Regions from separate parts of the Homo sapiens genome. Here all the other regions are linked to region 4. Evidence: fine-mapped expression QTL. A gene starts in region 4. Each other region holds a variant in brackets. All regions are shown on one strand. Distances are from middle to middle. Region 1 overlaps RAB11FIP4 (RAB11 family interacting protein 4). Region 2 overlaps RAB11FIP4 (RAB11 family interacting protein 4). Region 3 overlaps RAB11FIP4 (RAB11 family interacting protein 4). Region 4 holds the start of RAB11FIP4 (RAB11 family interacting protein 4). Region 5 overlaps RAB11FIP4 (RAB11 family interacting protein 4).

The links. PIP is the estimated chance that this variant, and not a neighbour inherited with it, causes the effect. A credible set is the group of variants that fine-mapping cannot tell apart.
Region 1: its variant is the best candidate, but not a certain one, in a credible set for the expression of RAB11FIP4 in blood mononuclear cells (TOPMed, PIP 0.61).
Region 2: its variant is the best candidate, but not a certain one, in a credible set for the expression of RAB11FIP4 in whole blood (INTERVAL, PIP 0.79).
Region 3: its variant is the best candidate, but not a certain one, in a credible set for the expression of RAB11FIP4 in thyroid (GTEx, PIP 0.86).
Region 5: its variant is the best candidate, but not a certain one, in a credible set for the expression of RAB11FIP4 in whole blood (Lepik 2017, PIP 0.71).

Annotation. Positions count from the first base shown.
Region 1 is chr17:31,475,421-31,479,536 of GRCh38, forward strand. All of the region lies in intron 3 of RAB11FIP4 (RAB11 family interacting protein 4), which reads left to right. Among named protein-coding and RNA genes, the nearest start is that of MIR4724, 57 kb to the right of the region's middle. RefSeq lists an enhancer at 907-1,723. The variant T/C (reference allele first, on the strand shown) is at 2,455.
Region 2 is chr17:31,493,079-31,497,194 of GRCh38, forward strand. All of the region lies in intron 3 of RAB11FIP4 (RAB11 family interacting protein 4), which reads left to right. Among named protein-coding and RNA genes, the nearest start is that of MIR4724, 40 kb to the right of the region's middle. The variant T/TA (reference allele first, on the strand shown) is at 1,570.
Region 3 is chr17:31,498,837-31,502,952 of GRCh38, forward strand. All of the region lies in intron 3 of RAB11FIP4 (RAB11 family interacting protein 4), which reads left to right. Among named protein-coding and RNA genes, the nearest start is that of MIR4724, 34 kb to the right of the region's middle. RefSeq lists enhancers at 77-1,038, 1,039-1,998. The variant G/A (reference allele first, on the strand shown) is at 1,575.
Region 4 is chr17:31,389,482-31,393,597 of GRCh38, forward strand. It overlaps RAB11FIP4 (RAB11 family interacting protein 4), which reads left to right and starts at 2,194. Exons shown (of 15, transcript NM_032932.6): 1 at 2,194-2,530. The coding sequence starts at 2,372. RefSeq lists an enhancer at 1,409-1,998.
Region 5 is chr17:31,481,680-31,485,795 of GRCh38, forward strand. All of the region lies in intron 3 of RAB11FIP4 (RAB11 family interacting protein 4), which reads left to right. Among named protein-coding and RNA genes, the nearest start is that of MIR4724, 51 kb to the right of the region's middle. The variant T/C (reference allele first, on the strand shown) is at 2,590.

The DNA.
Region 1 (4,116 bases), 86 kb after region 4:
CAAATAATACTAGTTACAGTAAAAAGATGTGAGCTGTTGCTACGCTTAAGCATTCGTCGTGCATTCTTTCATTTAACAAGCCATCCCTCAAAACCCCTGTGACACAGATACAGTTGGTCCTTATTACTTGCACATTCTGTATTTGCAAATTTGCCTGCTTGCTGAAATTCATTTGTAACACCAAAATCAATACTCGCAGAGCCTTTGTGATCATTTGCAAACATTCTCACGGTGGTGAAGATGTGAGTTGCCCAACGTGCATGTTCCCAGCTGAGGTCAAACAAGGCGACAAGCGGCCTTCTTGTTTCAGCTCTCATACTGTAAACAAGTGTCCTCTTCACGGTCTAGTTAGTGCCACGTTTTCTGCATTTTTGTGTGGTTTTTTTTTTTTTTGGCGATTTTGCTATTTGAAATGGCCCCCAAAGGCTGTCTAGTGTTCCTAAATGCAAGAAGGCTGGGACGTGCCTTGTGGAGAAAATAACGACTGAGTGTTAGATAAGCTTTGCCCAGGCATGAGCTACAGTGAGTTCAATGTTAATGAATCAACAATATGTATTAAATATAGTGTCTTTAAACAGAGACATGCTTAAAACAAGGTTATGCATTGATCGTTTGATGAAAATGTTGTGATCAGAGGCTCACAGGAATTGAACCAGTATTTCCCCTAGGGGCAATGGTTCAGTATTCACGATTCTGTGTTTGTAGTGACTTCATAGAGCATAACTACTGCAAATAATGAGAATCGACTGAACTTTTTTTTTTTTTTTTTTTTTTTTTTTTTTGATACGGTGTCCTCCTCTGTCACCCAGGCTGGAGTGCAGTGGTGCAATCTTGGCTCACTGCAATGTCTGCCTCCTGGGTTCAAGTGATTCTCCTGCCTCAGCCTCCCAAGTAGCTGGGATTACAGGCACGTGCCATCACGCCCAGCTAATGTTTGTATTTTTAGTAGAGACGGGATTTCACCATGTTGGCCAGGCTGGTCTCAAACTCCTAACCTCAAGGGATCCACCCACCTCGGGCTCCCAAAGTGCTGGGATTATAGGTGTGAGCCACCGTGCCTGGCCTCGTGTGTACTATTAACTCTGTTGGTCACATAAGAAACCAAGGCTAAGAGACTAGACGAGCTACAGGTAGTAATAGCAGAGCTGGGGCTGAAACCTGGGCTGGTGGGGCACTAGGGGGCTTCACCCCATGAATGTGGCCTTGTGATCCAGTGGGGACCACAGGGGACCTGGCCTGGAAGAAAGGTTTCTTTTTTAGGGCACCCCATGAGCAGCCTGCCTCCCCACTGCACTGGCCTCTCCAGTTTCTACGTGAACACAGAAGCTCCTTCAGCCCTCCTGGGCTGCAGCCACAGAGCTGTTGCTGGGCCGTGGTTTTCCCCTAAGTGGGTGGAACAGTGGCTCCGTGTCCAGAGGCCGGGCACCTTTGGTTTTCCTTTGCCCAGCCCAGCCCTGGCAGGGGAGGCACAAAGGAGGCATCTGTGACTGAGCACGGAGGCCAGCCAGTCTCCCGACACCAGCCCATCCGGTCTGCTGTGGCCTCCTGTTTATTCAGGGGATAAACTTGGGCAGGCCCCAGGGAGCCGCCCTCTCCCCAGCCCCACCACCTTCTCCACAGGGCAGAGTCTGCAGCCCTTCTTCTGTCTTTTGTGGGGTAGCTTGCGTGTTGTGGTTTGGGATACTTCTTCATCCCAGCATCACTGAGATAATTTAGGAGACAATTGCGGGGGACTCTGCTTTCAGAGTGGAGTTACAAGCCCTTCAGTGTGTGTCCTTCCAACCCCAGAACAGACTCAGAGTCGTCATCGTCCACTGTCATCCCGCCTCTCAGGAGGCCGCTAAATCTGAGACTAATGGCTGCCACCTGGAGTGTTCCTCAGGCAGGGAGCAACCACACGACTGTGAGGAGGGGGCACTTACCTGGTGGGGGGCTCAGTGCTCCCCTGTGGGGCTGAGGAAGGAGCCTGGGCTTGGGGAGAAGCTGGGTGCTCCCCGCCCACCCTCCTTGACCCATCAGATATAGATGAGAAGCCACGGCTGGGAGGGTGCGAAGCTGACAGCAGAGCCCCAGGTCCCCAGACAAGCTGTGGGGAGAAGAGCAGCGCGGGCGTCAGAGGCGCCTGGACAGGCAGCCGGCAGGTCCACAGCAAGGCTGCACCTTGTTCTTCCTTGGTCTCTGGGTGGCCAGCACTAGGTCTGGCCTGCGGTTTCTGCTCAGTGATTCTTGTTTGAGTAAATGAATGACGGGGTGAATGAATGAATGGTCTTGGTTCTATGATGGTTACTTTGGGGAAGTTATTTTATTATACAAAACCGAGCCTCTCTTTTTTACATAGGATAACGGCTAGGTGCACAGTCTCTGGAGCCAGGCTGCCTGGGTTTGACTCCTGGCTCTCAACTTACTAGCTGTATGTCCTTGAGTAACCTCTCTGAGCCTCAGTTTCCCCATCTG[T/C]AAAATGGGGATAATACCTGCCTCGTAGGGTTGTCGGGAGGATTAAATGAGCTCATATCATGTGAAGCACTAGAACGGAGCTTGTATATATTAAGTGCTATGTGGCCATTTGCTGTTAATACTTTTTTTTTTTTTTTTTTGAGACAGAGTCTCTGTCACCCAGGCTGGAGTGCAGTGGCTAGATCTCGGCTCACTGCAACCTCCACCTCCTGGGTTCAAGCGATTCCCCTGCCTCAGCTTCCTGAGTAGCTGGGATTATAGGCGACCACCACCACACCTGGCTAATTTTTGTATTTTTAGTAGAGACGGGGTTTCACTATGTTGGCCAGGCTGGTCTCGAACTCTTGACCTCAAATGATTCACCCGCCTTGGTCTCCCAAAGTGCTGGGATTACAGGCATGAGCCACCGTGCCTGGCCAGCTGTAAATACCTTTAAGATGAACATAACGTCTGCCTTCCGCGCGTGTTGGGAGCCTGGTGCATTGTTTGCCCAGGTGTGCTCTTCTCAGAACACTGATCCCTTGTGTTGTTAAATGTTAAATAAGAAGGGTCCTGTCCAAGCCCAGTTGCCTTAAGGAAGCCTGGGGTTAAAAGCTAGGGAGGCTTCTCTCCTGCAGAGGTGCCTGTGACATCTTCAAGAGGGAGTGAAGAATTTCACCGGCTGATTTGACCACAGATCAATTTCTTGCTATCAGAGTGGGATGGGGTTTCCACAAAACACGTCTTTGAAGACAACAAATACTGCTTCCTTCCCTCCCTCCCTGGAGCCCTGGCCTCATACTGCTTAGCTTATCTGGTAGCAGCCAGGGAAATGGCAGGATGCATCTCCCTGGGCTTAGAACTGGGGCAGGAGGCAGCAGCCAAGTCAACAGCAGGTAGTGGCCAGTCCTCAGCTCTAAGCCAGCAGGTAGGACTGCAGAGGTGCATGTGGCAAATCATAGACACCTGATGTGGGCTGCCACTGACTGAGACACTGCTGAGCTGGACAGCAGACACCTGCAACCCAAGGATGATGAAGAGGAACTTGAGGCCTTTAATTGCTCATGGTCTTCAATCATCCTTACCAATTAGTTTCTGCTGCTTCCCAGGCAATTCCGGTTGCTGTAAGTAAGCCAGTGATGCAACAAGAGAGGCAGAAGGGAGTCCTGAACGTGGGCCAGATCTGGGTACAAATCTTGTCTCTGCCACCACTTAATCCTCTTGAGCCTCAGTTTCCTTATTTGTTTCATGAGTGCAGTAACATCTACTCTACAAGATTGTTGGATTAAATTAAGAAATGAAGTGGCTGGCACATAGTACATAGCTGTTATCAACAATAGGCTGCAGGGAAATGTTCTCTCCTTGGTTTCAGGGCCCTTGTCCAAGGTTCCCATTAGGTAGAGGAATTGTTTCTTCAGAGTTGAGATCTGATGTGTCTGGGAAGAGGGCAGCCTGACTTGAGAAGGTCTCTCACCTTTCAAATGCCCATCTCAGGAACTTCAGAAAAGGCTTCCGCTAATTCAAAAATCAAGTCCTCAGCTTTCCATTGTCTGTGGGTGAGGGATTCTCAGTCCCATTCAGGGCCCTAACCATTCCCCAGGTGATTACTGTGTGCCAGACATGTTAGGAGCTTAAGTCCAAAGACACCAGGGGCATGGACCCTGTCCTCAGGAATTGCAGAAT
Region 2 (4,116 bases), 100 kb after region 4:
GCCCAGCAGGCCAGTGCTAGTCATGCCAGCACTTCCAAACCCACTTCTTGACTGACCTTAAGAAATGGGAAGTTTTCCAACTGTTGGTCACATTTTTAATTGATCTAACCTGCTTCATCTTCCCAGACAAGTGGGTTCTTTCCCAACAATGTAAACATTAATTCAGATGAAAACAAAGCTCTGTAGAAGTTATTAATATCTGTGGCTCTGCTCATGGGAGCCTTTCTCTTTTGAGGTACCAGAAAGAGGAAGGCCTAAACAGAACTGGAGTGTGGGAGAGTGGGCGGGCTCTCTCTCTTTAGTCATCTGTGGTCACCCCCCACCCCCCTGCGCTGTGCAAGCCTGATACCATGGAAAGGGAACCCACATTTCAAATAGCTGCTGCTGCTCCGGTGAACTTGGGGTAAGGGAGCTGAGGGGTGTCTACCCTCTGCACCAGACTCAAGTCTCCCTCCTAGAATAGGAGCGAGAATAGCAGCAAGTCCCTGCCCCCTGCTCCCTCGTTTTCCTGGAAGAAATGCCTACCTAAGACACAGACACCTGCATCCCACGCTTTGTCACCCAATGCCTGTTTCCTTAAGGAGAAAAAATGGGCGCCAGAAAACTTCTAGGTCTAGATCCTGGCTCTGTTGCTCGCTAGTTGTGGAACTTTGGACAGGCGACCTCACCCTTCTGATTTCACTTTCCCTGGCCTCACTCTTCACTCCCTCTGCCTGTGGGCAGGCAGCAGCATGGTTCTGTGGGGTCCTAAGGACCCCAGGGAGTCACTCCCACATTTGGGCAGCAGCTTTGGGTTTAGTCTGTCCAGTTTAGGGCCCCAGATCGTATATGTGTGTGTGCACACACGTGTGTGTTTGCGTGTCAGGCAGCATTCAGATGGGGCATCCTGTTCATCCACCCCCCTGCTTTGGGGTGGCTGAGGGTTGGGGTGCCCAACAGGTAGAATGGGGTTGATAATAGCACCTGCCTCGCAGGGTGATGGTGAAAATAAAATGAGCCATGGTGATTTAAGATGCCCAGTCTAGGTTCTGGCCTTTACTTAGTTGACACTCGTGGACGGTTAGATGGTTAGAGAGGCAGGCCAGTTTAGTACCAAAATGCCTTCAGAGTCAGGCTGTCTCTGGGTTCAGATCCTGGCTCTGCCCCTTGCTATTGGTGGAATCTTAGACAAGTTATTTAATTTCTCTGTGCCTCAGCTTCCCCACCTGTAAAACGAGGATGAGGCTAGTACCTCCCTCACAGGGTTCGTGGTAAGAGGATGAGGCTAGTACCTCCCTCACAGGGTTCGTGGTAAGGCTCAAATATGTAAATGTATGAAAAGCACTTAAAACTGTGCTTTGGGGTGAGCTGTTATTCTTAGTTCCTGCAGGCTTCAGCTGGTTTGATTGTTGTGACTAATAACCTTCGCACCTAACAGAATGTCTTGCCGGGGAGTGTCATGGCCCAAACAGGAAGGTGGCAGCGGAAAAACTCCATTACTCAAGGGCCTTTGCAAGAGAAGCAAAACTCTACTTCCTCAGCTTCTGTGGGTTTTTAAATCTTTTTTTTCAATTTTAATTTTAATTTTTT[T/TA]AAAAAAAAAGTAGAAATGAGGTGTTACTATGTTACCCAGGCTGATCTCGAATTCCTGCCCTCAGGTGATCCTCCCACCGCGGCCCCCCAAAGTGCTGGGATTACAGGCATGAGCCTCTGCACCCAGCCAGCTTCTGTGTTTTTAACAAACCTTGCTCGGGCTCTGCAGATACAGATTCTGGGTCTGGGGTGAAGTGACTAGCATTTGTGTGGCAGTCTGTGAATGAGATGTCAAGCAGCTTCCGAGGTAACAGACTTCTCCCCAGGTTCAGTGAGGGAGACTGTACCTAGCCTGTCCTTCCAGAGGCTGCTCACACTGCCAGGCTGTGGCTGGCCTGCCAAGGGGAGGATGGCCCTCCACACCTCGGCCCACCTGCCCTTCACCTCCAGCCAGGGCCTGCCTGTCCATCCACCTGTGCCTAGCTGGAAAAGCTGGCTTGGAGCAGTGCTGCCCATCTGCCACTGCCAGCCCCCAGCATCTGCCTTATTAAAATGCTGAGGCTCTGGCTGGCCACAAGCCCCAGGAGATTTGGAGAAAAGCCAGACAAAAAGGTGCAGGCTGTGCCACCGCCCAGCCACACTGGGTGACTGCCCTTGGTAGTTAACCACAGAGTCATCCAGCTTGGCTGCCCAGAGGTCTATAGCTCCACTCAGGCGAAGCTGGCTAGCCTGGCCTAGCCTGGCTGGTTAGGTGGGCAGGACAGCCTCCACTTGACTGATTTTTTTTTTTTTTTTTTTTTTTTTTGAGACAGGGTTTCGCATTTCTGCCCAGGCTAGAGTGCAGCGATACAATCTTGGCTCACTGTAGCCTCGACCTCCTGGGCTCAAGTGATCCTCCCACCTCAGCTGCCTGAGTAGCTGGGTGCACCACCACTCCCGGCTATTTATTCATTTGGTAGAGATGAGGTCTCACTATGTCACCCATGCTGGTCTCAAACTTCTAGGCGCAAGCAATCCTTCCACCTTGGCCTCCCAAAGTGCTGGAATTACAGGCATGAGCCACCATGCTTGACTCGTCTGACTGATGTTAGGCAACCTTGAATTGATGGTCTCCTGGTGAAATGAGGGTTCTTGTTGACAAGGCAGGTCTGGCCAACACATTTTTGTATGATTATCTGCACGATTGCATCAGTTATTAGCAAAGAAGGATTTTATAGCAGCAGGTGTGTGCTCATGTGCTTGTGTGGAGTTGTTGACTGCCCTTCACTGCACACACACAGTCTGCGGAACTGTGACTGAATCCCTGTTCCCTACTCACACTTACATGGTATTTTCTGGGATTCTAAGGCACATTCTTTTTTTCCTTTCCTTTTTTTCCATTTAACATCTTAAATTGGAATGTGTCGCACATTTGCGGATTATTATAATTTGACAGCGCCTTTTTCTTGGCATACTTGAAATAACGGTGCATTGTAAAATCAGAGGTGTCTCAGATTTAATGAAATAGAAACTAGGTAACCTCTGGGGAACTTATATAATTTGTCCAGTTCCTCCAAGGATGCAGGTGGAGCCACCTTGTAGTGGTGGCAGATTATATGAGGGGACCCTGATGTGGTTCAAGGGGACAACCTTGGATTGGGCTTAGATTCCAGCTTTATGGCTCGCCAGCTGTGTGGCCTTGGCAAAGTAGAGCGACCTCTCTGAGCCTCGGGATTTTCCTCCCACCACATATGAATCGTGGCTCCACAGTTGTCATGGCTGTGTGCAAGGCAACATTCCCTGTTTCTCTTGCTGGGTATCATCTAAGGTCTGCCCCGTTCCATCTGGGTTAAGAGGGAAAATGAGGGCTGGGAGTGGGTCACTGGCCTTCCCAAGGGAGCAGAGGGAAACTGGTGTTCCAAGGGCTTCTTGACTCAGTTTATAATCCTTGGACATTACTCTTCTTCCCTCGTCCTTCTCCCCCTTTGCCTGAGTTTTCATTTTCACATGTGTTTCCTTTTAGCAATTTTCTTTCAAATCTCTCCTCTCCCTTTCTGTAAAGTCTTCCCACATGTAGCCTCTTTGAAGCTCCCTGGGGTGGGAAAGGGGAGGAGGGCTCTGCCTGATGGCCTGGATGGCACAGACCTCAGAAGCCCAGTGTGCTGTGGTCCCTGCAAGCTTCAGCTCAAGTCCAAGTTCTGGTACCATCAGCGTTGCTAACTGCCATTCCTGTGGCTGCAGGGTCAGCCTGAGTCCACTCCAGTGCACAGTGTTGTCCATGGGGTGCTGGATGTCGCATCGCTGAGAGCATTTGGTATTCTCTGTACCCTCCTTGCTGCGTTAAAATCAGACCTGGTTCAAATCCCAGCCCTGCGACCTTTCACGAATTACTTAACCTCCTTGAACCTGTGTATTCTCATCTAAATAGTGGCTGATGCACAGAAATACCTGGCACACAATAGGTGCTTAGCAGATGCGTGCTTTCCTTGTTCTCAAATGTTTAAGACCCCTTTGTGGACAGGCACGATGGTTCATGCCTGTAATCCCAGCACTTTGGGAGGCCAACGCGGGCGGATCACCTGAGGTCAAGAGTTCGAGACCAGCCTGACCAACATGGTGAAACCCCAT
Region 3 (4,116 bases), 110 kb after region 4:
TCCCAAACCTTCACTTTGAGTGAAGTGTTTTTATCATCGCTCCTCTTATCATGATGGTAAAGTATGGAGCCCCCAAAGCAAGCCCCACAGACTCTTGGTTGTGTGAGTAATTAAGCCCTCTCTTCAAAAAGCCACATCTTGAAAAGCTATAATTTGTAGCAAAAAATAGCTGCCCGTTCCAAGAACCAGGAGAGCCCTTTATACGCACCCCATTCAACTGCAGCACGTTACTTCGCTTTTGAGTTGAGTTGCTGGGACCTCTGGTCCATGCTTTTCTTGGGGGAACCAGAGATGCAGTGGCTGCATGGGAACTGGAGCTTCCGGTAGGCATTTGGGAAATCTTTTCTGAGAATTTAGATGGGACGATTTAAATTAGGGAACTCCTGATTTGGGTTTGCATGGCCCCAACTTTTTGTGTGACTCCAAAGGGGAGTAAAGAGAAAAACTGCAGGATACTTCAGGGGAAAGTGGATGAGACTCTCTGGACACCATTCCCCCACTTTTTCTTTTCCTTCTTCCTTTCTTTCTTCTTTTTTTTTAGATAGAGTTTCACTCTGTCGCCAGGCTGGAGTACAGTGGCACAGTCTCAGCTCACTGCAACCTCCTACTCCCTGGTTCAAGCGATTCTCCTGCCTCCGCCTCCCGAGTAGCTGGGATTACAGGCACGTGCCACCGTGTCCAGCTAATTTTTGTATTTTTTAGTAGAGATGGGGTTTCACCATGTTGACCAGGATGGTCTCAATCTCCTGACCTCGTGATCCGCCCGTCTCGGCCTCCCAAAGTGCTGGGATTACAGGCATGAGCCACCGCACCTGGCCACATTTCCCCATCTATAAGGAGGAAAATGATAATTACTTGCAGGGAGTTTACCACCTCTGTAAAGCACAGAGCAGACTGGCCACATGGTAGGCGCCCTAGTATGTCAACTTTGTTCTCTTTCTCTGAGTTGTGGCTCCACTAGCTATTTGTAGACAGGAGATCTTTGTGGCTTCAGGTAGGTGATGGGGGACTGAAAGCTAAGAGGAAAAGCCTCCCCTGACCTGCAGCTTCTCTTTGAGCTGGCATGCCTGGAATTCTTGGGGCTGGCTGCTGGGTTTGTTTTCCAGATGTGGAAGCAATTTAAGTTCTGTTTTCTTAATCCCCAACAGTTTGCCTCCGAAGTCCACATTCTCATTTGAAAATCAAGGCCGTTGGCTCTGTTTGCAGGGCAGAGGGTAGGCTAGATAGCCTCTTCAAACCCTTTTTGTTTAGGAAATGGGCTTACTGGGGCACTCAGATCTGGGACCCAGGGCATTCTTGGGACAGTCACACCCCATCCAGGACTTGGTTAAAAGGTGAGTTCACTTTCTCTGTGGGTTTTCCTTGGAGATGATTCACTGAGCTAAATTCAGCTGCACCTTGGTTACAAACCAGCTCTAGACCGCTGTGGAGTGGCGGGGGTGGGGCTCGGGTTTGGGCCATGTCACAGGCCAGCTGGCGTCCCTCTGAGCAGGGTGCCCACGTGTCCCGGGGGCAGTAGCGGCCCTCCTTCCCACACTGACCACAACAGAGGGAGGAAAATGCTCCAGATGTCA[G/A]GTAGCCAGAAATACTGTCTGGCACGGAGAAACTGGTAATATCTTGTTCAGTTACTGAGCGCTGCTGGTCACAGAGGCAGCCTGACCCAGGATAAAAGGCTCCTTGTGTGAGGGCCTGTGGCTCCAGGGCTAACTGCTGATTTATTCTCTTGTAAAGCAATCGCTGTGTAGGTAAAATACCTTTTACATTTGTCTTATAACTATACTAAATACAGTTTTGGGCAAACAAAAATTGCCTTTGCAATTCTAACGTCTCTGAACTGTGCATATGCTTCTCTGAAATTGAAATAGAATACTTATACTACTGAGAGAATGCACAAGAAAATGGAAGTGGCTGGGCATGGTGGCTCATGCCTGTAATCCCAGCACTTTGGGAGGCTGAGGCGGGCAGATCACGAGGTCAAGAGATCGAGACCATCCTGGCCAACATGGTGAAACCCCGTCTCTACTAAAAATACAAAAATTAGCTGGGTGTGATGGCACGCGCCTGTAGTCCCAGCTACTCAGGAGGCTGAGGCAGGAGAGTCGCTTGAACTCGGGAGGCAGAGGTTGCAATGAGCCGAGATCGTGCCACTGCACTCCAGCCTGGTGACAGAGTGAGACTCCATCTCAAAAAAAAAAAAAAGAAAATGGAAATAACTTACTTAGATTGGCATATAGTGTTTATAGAATGCCATCCTGATAATCATAGATTCACCAAGCTTTGATTTCAACAAAATATCATCTCTTAAGAAGTAGCAGTATTTCAAACTAATCGTGAAAGAGAATAAGAGAATACAACTTTTTTTTTTTTTTAGGACAGACCAAAAATAAATCCCTGAGTCTCTTGAGTAGGTTCTGGAAATCCAGTTACAGATGCTCCTTGATGGGGTTACGTCCTGATAAACCCATTGTATATTGGAAGTATCATAAGTTAAAAAAAAAAAAAGAAAAAAATGCGTTTAATACATCTCACCTACCAAACACCATAGCTTAGCCTAGGCTACCTTAAATGTGCCCAAACACTTACTTTAGCCTACAGTTGGGCAAAATCATCTAACACAGAGCTTGTTTTACAATAAAGTGTTTTATGTCCCACGCAATTTATTTTTTGTTGTTGTTGTTTTGTTTGATTTGGTTTGGTTTGGTTTTTCTTTGAGATGGAGTCTGGCTCTGTTGCCCAGGATGGAGTGCAGTGGCGCGATCTCGGCTCACTGCAAGCTCCGCCTTCCGGGTTCACGCCATTCTCCTGCCTCAGCCTCCCAAGTAGCTGGGACTACAGGCGCCCGCCACCACGCCCAGCTAATTTTTTGTATTTTTAGTAGAGATGGGGTTTCACCATGGTCTCAATCTCCTGACCTCGTGATCCGCCCGCCTCGGCCTCCCAAAGTGCTGGGTGTAATCCACCGCACCCAGCCCATCCCACGCAATTTATTAAGTACTATGCTGAAAGTGAAAGACAATGCTCTTATGGGTACTTGAAGTATGACTTCTACTGACTGTGGATCACTTTGCACCATCATACAGTTGAAAAATCAAAGTGAGCCCGGGCATAGTGGCTCACGGTGGCCTGTAATCCCAGCACGTTGGGAGGCCAAGGTGGCTGGCTGCATCACTTGAGGCCAGGAGTTTGAGACTAGCCTGGACAACATGCCAAAACCCCATCTGTACTGAAAATACAAAAATTAGCCAGGCGTGGTGGTGGGCACCTGTAATCCCAGCTATTTGGGAGGCTGAGGCAGGAGAATCACTTGAACCCAGGAGGGGGGTGTTGCAGTGAGCTGAGATGGTGCCATCGCACTCTGGCCTGGTTGACAGAGCGATACCTTGTCTCAAAAAAAAAAAAAATTGTAAGTCAAACCATTGTAAGTTGAGGACCATCTGTAGTTCTCTTTAAAGGTTGAATTGGCTGGGCGAGGTGGCTCACACCTGTAATCCTAGCACTTTGGGAAGCTGAGGTAGGTAGATCACTTGAGGTCAGGAGTTCAAGACCAGCCTGGCCAATATGGTGAAACCCCATCTCTACTAAAAATACAAAAATTAGCTGGGCGTGCTGGTGGGCACCTGTAATCCCAGCTACTTGGGAGGCTGAGGCAGGAGAATTGCTTGAACCCAAGAGACAGAGGTTGCAGTGAGCTGAGATTGTGCCACTGTACTCCAGCCTGGGTGACAGAGCAAGACTGTATCTCAAAAAATAAAAAAATAAAGGTTGAATTGAATTGACCTTTAAAAAGTTCTCTTTTGTTATCAGGGTGAGAAGGTGGGCGAAAAATCCAGACTGAGCTTGGGTTGGGGTTTCCATGAAGCCTTCCTAGGGGAGGAGAAGGGATATTGGTATATTGGTCTATTGGTCTGCTACGGCTGTCATAGCAAAGGACCACAGACTGCGTGGCGTAAACAACCAAAGTGTGTTTTATCACAATTCTGGAGGCTGAAGTCTAGCATCAAGGTGTCAGCAGGCTTGGTTTCTTCTGAGTCCTCTCTCCTTGGCTTGCAGACAGCCATCTTCTCCCTGTGTCGTCACATGGTCTTTCCTTTGCGTGTGTCCTAATCTCCTCTTATA
Region 4 (4,116 bases):
GTCTTCCAGCTCCCCTGTCCCCAGTTAGGGGGCATTCAATGCCAGGCTGAGCGCGGAGAGCCATTTCTGCAGCCCCCACCAGGGGGCAGCCCCAGCTCCTGGCCATCTCCTTTCTGTGCTGAGCCCCTTGGGTGAGAGAAAATGGCACGAGCTGACCTTGGACGAACTAATATCGGGGTCCCAGGGGCAGGCAGCAGCCCCCAGCTTCCACTCCCTACCTCCTTGCCAGGGGGCTGGCTGGATCTCCAGCAGCCAGTCTCTCCCAGCCAGCTGCTTGTCCTTATTCTCCACTTCCACCTCCATTTTGCAGGGTAGGTCGGGGGAAAGCAGCATTGCTTAGATTCGCTCTCATCTTCAGTTGCCCTAAAAGGAAGGTACTATTATCCTCACGGTACAGGCGAGGAAACCGGCTAAAATATGCTAGTATCCTGCTGAGCGGCATCCAGCTAGCAGAGACGCTCCTACTCAGCCGAATACCCCTACTCCACTCCCACGGCCTCCCCTTTCCCGCTTTCTCACATTTCGGACTCCTCAATCCTCAGAACCACAGGTCTCTCTTCCCAAGAGGTGTTGCCTTTCGTGGCTCTCAGACGAACTGAAGGGTCAAAGGAGAGTAGCTAAAAGCCAGGTTCATCCCAGGAGCCGGGGCTGGAAAGAAGAGGTCCCCGCCCACTGTCAGAAGGCAAATGGCAGTCCCTGCGCAGGATATATTCAGGGTTGAGCAGGAAGACCACAGAGGTACAAACCGAGGCCCAGCTAGGGGAGGCCATGCAGTTCACCCCGTACTCCCTGTCTGCGCCACTACGTTGCTCCCGGCTCCTCACATAATGGGCGGGCCCATCCCCTCTGGGTGGGGCTTCCTCTGGGCCCACTCTTGCCTGGAGATCAGGGACTTGAAGGTAATTAAGACATATCTTGCCCTGGAGGGCTTCCCAGCATGGTAGGGGAAATGGGCATCCCACTAGAGAATTAAGAATTAACTGGGCACCTGGAAGAAGGGCTTAGAACTCAGAATAGAAGATAAGATGGCGTGCCATCAGAGAAGCCTTCCCGGAGGAGGAAACCTCTGTGCTGAGCATGACAGCATAGGTGGGAGTAGACTCAGCCAAGGCCTTTTTTTGGGTTGGGGCCAGTCGTTGCCACAAAGACCTGATGTGCCGAGCAAGAAGGTGGAGAGAAGAGCCCGGCCGGGTCCTGCAGGGCCCCGAGGCTGGGCTGGGAAGTTAGCACAAGCTGGGGTGGAGGCTCCGCTGAGCACTAATGGGAGGAGGCCAGGGTCCTGACCTAGAGCCTGCGGCCAGCGGGACAGAGATTCTGTCCTGGATTCTCTGAGCTTGGGGCATGCGGGCTGCCAGGGAGGTGTGATGGTGGGAACCCGGCGAAAGGGAGGAAGCCTCTTCCAGGCGTGGAGCAGCCTTGGGCCCTGAACAGGCAGGCCTCTGGAAGCGCCTCGCTTTTCCTCCCTCCGGCCTCATCCTGGTTTTCTCCTCATCTCCCCGTCGCAGGGTCCCGGGTCCAGGCTGGGGTTCAGTTGCCTGCTCCTCCTCTCTGTGCCCTCCCCCGCCCGATGGCCCCACAAGTGCTGTCTTGCAGGAGAGCGCCGGGAGACCGCAGGGCGGAGGTGAAGAACGGAGTCCAGAGCCCTCCAGAGATGGCAGCGAATCCCGGCCCTGCCTCTTGCCAGCTGTGTGGCCTAGAGTGAGTCCGACCTCTCTGGGCCTCAGCTTCCTCCGGGATGAATGCAGTCACGGAACGCGCCAATGCAGGAGGCCCCCAGGACATCCTGAGCGCTCGGGAGACGCCAGGCGCGGCAGCGGGCACGGATAGCGGAAAGGGGCGCGACCCCGCGGAATCCTCCGGCAGGGCAGGGCCTTTGGGTGGCTCCGGGTGTCCAGAGGAAGGGGTGGGCTCGGGGACGCGGAGGGAAACTGGGGACGCGGAGGGAAACTGAGGTCGCGGAGGACGCGGCCGTTGGCAGCTCGCTGCGCCTGCCGGCCCCGCGTGGGCCGCCCCACTCGGGAGGACGCGGGCTCCTTTTGTCTGCAGCGTCCCCGCCGCCGCCGCCCCCGCCGCCTCCCCCTCTCCCTCCCATTTTCGCCGCGGCCCCCGCCCCTCCCCTCCCCGCCCCCTATTGCCCCTCCTCCTTCCCCTCCCCACTCTTCTCCTTCCCTCCCCTCCCCTCCCTTCCCCTCCGGAGCGGCTGGGGCTGCGGCGCCGCTGCTGACACGGATCGGCCGCGGCCGCCACCGGGCGGAGGCTGCGCGGCGCAGACCCAGACGGGCGGCCCCGGAGGGCGCGCGGCGATGGCGGCGGCGGGCAGGCGGCGGGCGCGGCGGGCGAGGGGTCCGGGCTGAGCTGCGGGCCGGCCCGGATGGCGGGCGGCGCGGGCTGGTCGGGCGCCCCCGCGGCTCTGCTGCGCTCCGTGCGCCGCCTGCGCGAGGTGTTCGAGGTGTGCGGCCGCGACCCCGACGGCTTCCTGCGCGTGGAGCGCGTCGCGGCGCTCGGACTGCGCTTCGGCCAGGGCGAGGAGGTAAGCTGGCCCGACCCCAGTCCCGGCCCGGGGACCCCAGCCCAGCCCCGCCGCCCCTCCCCCAGCTCCCCCGCCGGGTCACCCGCGTGGCCCGAGGCGGTGGCCTCCCTCCCAATCCCCTCCCTCCGCCGGAGCCCAGGACCTCGGCCCCCCCCGGGTATCCCTGGCCCAGCCGGGCCCTCGCTTTCCGCCCCCCGGCGCCCGTGCCCCGAGCGTCACGCGTCACGCCTAGGGTGGCTTCTGCGCCCACCTTCCTTCCTCGGCCATGCAGGTCCTTCTGAGCGGTCTGCACATCCACCCTTGTCTGGGGGAGAGAGCTGCCAGAATCCGGCCCTAGGCTCCCCACCCCACCCGGCGCTGCGGAGACCAAGATGCAAGGGTCTGTGTACGTCCTGCTGGGCCGGGCCAGGGGGTGAAAGGGACCGGTAGGGGTGCTCTGCAGCCTTGGCTCCTCGGCTGCACACACCCTGCCCAGACACGGAAGGAGGTGTCTGCTGGGGCCACCGTGTACTCCCGGGCCAGTGTCGGGTGACCTCTCATTCAGGCTCTGCTGGGCAGCCAGGCTGGCAGCTGGCTGTGTTGGTTGCAGCAGGCCAGGCAAAGCCAGGCTCGGGGAGTGGTGGCTGAGCAGAGGGCTTTCATGTGGCGGGGCCGCATCTATTTGGGGAAAGCAGGACTTACGTAGATTGTTAACAGGGCTGGAAGCGGAGGGTCGGTGCCGCCAGTAGGGTGGACGGAGTCATATCACTAAACGCACACTACACCAGTGTCCTCTGGTGCCACCGGCATGGGGACTGGGGACTGTGTCTCAAGGGGAGGACAAGACACCCACCTGGCTGAAATGGTCAGGGGTTTCCCCTGGAGCCAAAAGCCCTGAGAAGTGGGTTTCCAAGGCCATCTAAGGCCTCAGGCCCTGCATGGGGGGCCTGGGGCCATGGGCCTCAAATGGGCACTGGCTGGCATTGTGTTCCCAGAACAGGTCGGACCAGGCATTTCAGAACATGGGAGAAGCTGGGTGATGGCCAGGTTGGGCCCGTGCCTCTGCGTCACCAGAGAGTGGGAGGCGATTGAGAATCATCTCTCCACCCGCACCTGGGCATGGGCCGGGACTTGTGAGTCGCTGAGAGCTGTGGGCAGAAGAGAGTGAGGCAGCTTCAGGGCTTGAGAACTCAGGTACCCACCACAGGAAAGACCACTGCAGTGCCTGTGAGAGCCCAGACTGCCCTCTGCGGGGCTTTGCTGAGGGACACTGCCTGCTGCCACCATGACCCTTCTTCCCCAAAGGCCAGCCAAGCCCTTCCGTTTTTCCAGTGGCTCCCATCTGGGGCAGGCTGAGCAGACTCCTGGCATGGGGATAGTCGCGCTCCTTCCTCTCAGAACACAGACTGCAGGTCGGGTAAAGAAGCTACCAGCTCTGGCTGAAACCTGGAGTCCCCGAACTCAGAGCCTCAGTAGTGGGAAGGGCCTCCCAACAACCTCTGGCAGGGGCCACCGGCCTCAGCCACGTGCCCAGCAAGCCTCACCCACTTCTCCCCCAGCTGGACAGTTCCTGCCATTAGAACCTTCTCCCTCATACACTCTAGAGA
Region 5 (4,116 bases), 92 kb after region 4:
CTGCCACCTCCTCTTCTTGGATGACTGAATGAGTCAGGGGGCTTGTTTGTTAGGGAGGAAACACTGGTTTTCTCACCATTTTCCCCCTTTCGTTGAGCTTGAATGAGTAAGAAAACCCATTGTTTATACATGCACAGGTTGACACAAATAGAGCTTGGAGCTTCTGAAGACTCAACCTGGGCTCCAGAGTCAATAAGACCAGGTCCCACCCCGTCTGCACAGCATCCAGCCAGATGTTACAAGAGAACCCAGCCCCGGGGGCAGGCTGGTGAAATCATCCCGGCCAGTGGACAGTCACCAACACCGGAGTGTTTGCCAAGGGAAACACCTTGTTTCCACAGTCCAAGATCCTCTCCTGGGCTGGCACAGAGTTGCAGAATTGGAAGAGACCTAAAGATGTGCTGTCCAGCTAAAAGCTCTTCCAGGGGAGGAGTCTGAGGCCCAAAAAGTTAGGGAGAGCCCAGAACCCAGGCCTCCTGCATCTTCACTGGGTTTGGTGGGAAGAGGCAGAGGAAGGAGTGGTCAGAGAAGATGCCAGCTTAGTGCAGACCCCTAGACACATCCCCACTGGCGAGAGAGGGCTTTTGGATCCAAGAGTCATTCCCATTTTTTTTCTAAATAAAAAATTGGGGGCCAGGTGCGGTGGCTCACGCCTGTAATCCCAGCACTTTGGGAGGCCGAGGCAGGCAGATCACTTGAGGCCAGTTCAAGACTAGCCTGGCCAACATAGCAAAACCCCATCTCTACTAAAAATACAAAAAGTTAGCTAAGTGTGGTGGCATATGCCTGTAATCTCAGTTACTCAGGAGGCGGAGGCACAAGAATCACCTGAACCCAGGAGACAGAGGTTGCAGTGAGCAAAGATCGCACCACTGCACTCCAGCTTGGGCGACAGAGGGAGACTCTAAAAGAAAAAAAAAGAAAAAAAAAAGAAAAGAAAAAAAATTAGGAATGACTTTCCTTTGGGGTCAAGAGGCCTCTGCAGTCTCAGAGTCCTGCCTATTTGCTTGGTAGTCCCTTCCCTAAGCCACTGCTTAAGTCATCAAATACTGAATTTACCACCTGGGATGAAAGCTGAGATTTAAGAGTTGTAGCTGAACTTCCTGAGCGTGGAGTCAATGGACCTCTGAGAGAGAGGTGAGAGAGGACAAGTACTTGTGGTAAAGTCCTAGCCAGCTGCCAGGGGGGCTTTTCCACACATAGAGCCCCAGCTGGGCAGAAATAATGTCCTCTGGCCGGGGGCAGTGGCTCACACCCATAATCCCAGCACTTTGGGAGGCCGAGGCGGGCGGATCACGGGATCAGGAGTTCGAGGCTATCCTGACCAACATGGTGAAACCCCGTCTCTACTAAAAATACAAAAATTAGCCAGGCGTGGTGTCATGCGCCTATAGTCCCAGCTACTCAGGAGGCTGAGGCAGGAGAATCGCTTGAACCCTGGAGGCGGAGTTTGCAGTGAGCCGAGATCATGCCATTGCATTCCAGCCCGGGTGACAGAGTGAGACTGCATCTCAAAAAAAAAAAAAAAAAAAAAAAAAAAAGTAAAGAAAGAATGTCCTCTGTGTGTGCGTTGACAGAATCAAGCCCTGCTAAGATGGACCAGGTTTGACTGATGCTCACAGTCCTGATTAATGACTGGTGTCCACCTTGGAGAGCACTAGACTGAGAGTAATGCAACCTGGCTCTACTCCTGGCTCCACCACTAACTGAGTGTGCTACTTGTGAGGGGAGATGCCATTTCCCACCTCTGGGGCTCATTCCCCTGTCTGGGAAATGGTTATACTATACCAGTGATTTTAAATATTTTTAAAGCCATAGAACCCTTTATTCACATGAAGTTTCATACAGAAGACAGCATGTACAGCAGACAGAAGTGGAGCTATTTTTGTGGTTCCCCTGGAGCACATCTTCCCTTTTGCGAAGTCTCCACAGAACCCTGAGGGTTCCAACAAACTCAGTTTGAGAACAACTTGCCAGACTTTTTGTTTTAGCTCCAATACTATTTATGTCAGCTGTTGTTTGTTCACTTGGCTAATATTGGTTGGCATCAGTTGCTTGGCTAATGTTAACATTAGGTAATGTTCAGAAGGGTTCTTTTCTCAAAATAATGATCATGAAACCATATATATATATATTTAGCCAGTCGTTCCACATGGCCCCAAACATGTGCAGAATGTTGCTTCTTTACACCATCCAATGTTGAGCTAACTCTTGCATGGTGGCAGCGAAAGAAAATAGACACAGAGAGGCCAGGCATGGTGGCTCATGCCTGTAATCCCAGCATTTTGGGAAGCTGAGGTGGGGGGATTGCTTGAGCCCAGGAGTTTGAGGCTACAGTGAGCTATGATTGTGCCACGGCACTTCAGCCTAGGCAACAGAGCAAGATCTTATCTTTTTTTTTTTTTTTTTTTGAGACAGTCTTCCTCTGTCACCTAGGCTGGAGTGCAGTGGCACAATCTTGGCTCACTGCAACCTCCACCTCTCAGGTTCAAGTGATTCTCCTGCCTCAGCCTCCAGAGTGTCTGGGATTACAAGCGCTCGCCACTACACCCAGCTAATTTTTGTATTTTTAGCAGAGACAGGGTTTCG[T/C]CACGTTGGCCAGGCTGGTCTCGAATTCCTGACCTCAGGTGATCTGCCCGCCTCGGCCTCCCAAAGTGCTGGGATTACAGGAGTGAGCCACTGCGCCGGGCCTGACATTGTCTCTTTAAAAAAAAAAAGGAACCTCACAGGTAATGCTAAGAGACCAGGGTACCTAACTCAAGACCTTCCTTCCCCACATCCTCATAGGTGGTGCTATGCTCAGAAGGCAGGATTATATTTCCTATTAACTCACTCTTAGCCCCCGTTTGAACCAAGGACACTGAATCCTAGCCTGTGTTAGAGCCCTCAGATCCCATATTCATCCTGTGTCTAATCTCACCCATCAGATACAGTCACCATCCCCACCCCACCCCCCACTGGACTATCATTGCTTCTCTGAACCCTGCTGGAAAGTGTTAGCCCTTCCCTCAAAAGTCAGGGTCCTAAATTTTCCCTCAGGCTGCCTCTAATCCTCACCTCTGTTCCCCTCAGCCTCTTGCCATAATGATCATTAGTAATAGCTACTGTTTATTGGTTACCTGCTCTGTGCCAGGCTCTGTTCTATGTATTTTACTGGTCCTGATTATTTTGATCCTCACAATAGTTCTAAAATACATACTATTATTATCTCCAATTTAAAGATGAGGAAATTGAGACACTGGGACTTAAACTTGCCTACGTTCATTTAGCAACAAGGTGGTAAAGCCAAGATATGGCCCTTGGCCCCGGCACCCATGCACAGAACCAGTGCGTCAGACTGCAGCTCACTCATGCTGCTGGTAGTGACTAGGAACTGCCATTTATTGAGCACCTGCAGCATCTTAGGCATTGCACTAGACACTTTATCATTTCATTGAAACTTCACAACTGCAAGAGGAAATGTCTTATTTCCATTTTCTAGAGGTAGAGACTGAGGCTCCAAAACATTGACTTCCCTTGATAAGTGGAACCGGGCAGGCTTCAAACCCAGGAGTGTTCAATGCATCTGTGGCCTTTCTCTGTCACTCTGCTTTTAAGGACAAGTACCTGCAGACATTCCCCACTCCACTACCTTTGAGAAAAATAAAGAAGGACCTACTGATACCACCCGTTCCATAGAGCTCTTGAGAAATGTCGCTCAGGCTGCCCATGGTGGGGACAGGGAGGGGGCTTGACAGGCCTGACTTTCTCCATTGACCTTCTCTGGGAGAGAGTCACGACCAGAGAAGGGATGATCACCCTTGGTTTCTGCTTTTCTTTCTTGGTTCTGGACGATCCTGTCATGTGACCTGCTTTGAGCCTAATAATCCTTAGGGGCAACATCGGACTTGGAAGGGAAGAAGGGAAACCAAGATAGAACCCCTGGACTCAGCCACATCCTAAAACCTTTTGGGACACTGCTGAGCTTAAGGTCTCAGGGTGGAGATGGGAAGGCAGATAGAGTGGGCCCAGGGTGCATGGGCTCAATCGCATACCACACCTTTGAGGAGTGCCTAAAATTAAGTGTAGTCACTGTGCTAGGGTGTACAACATCCTGTGAGGTACCATTCCCATCTT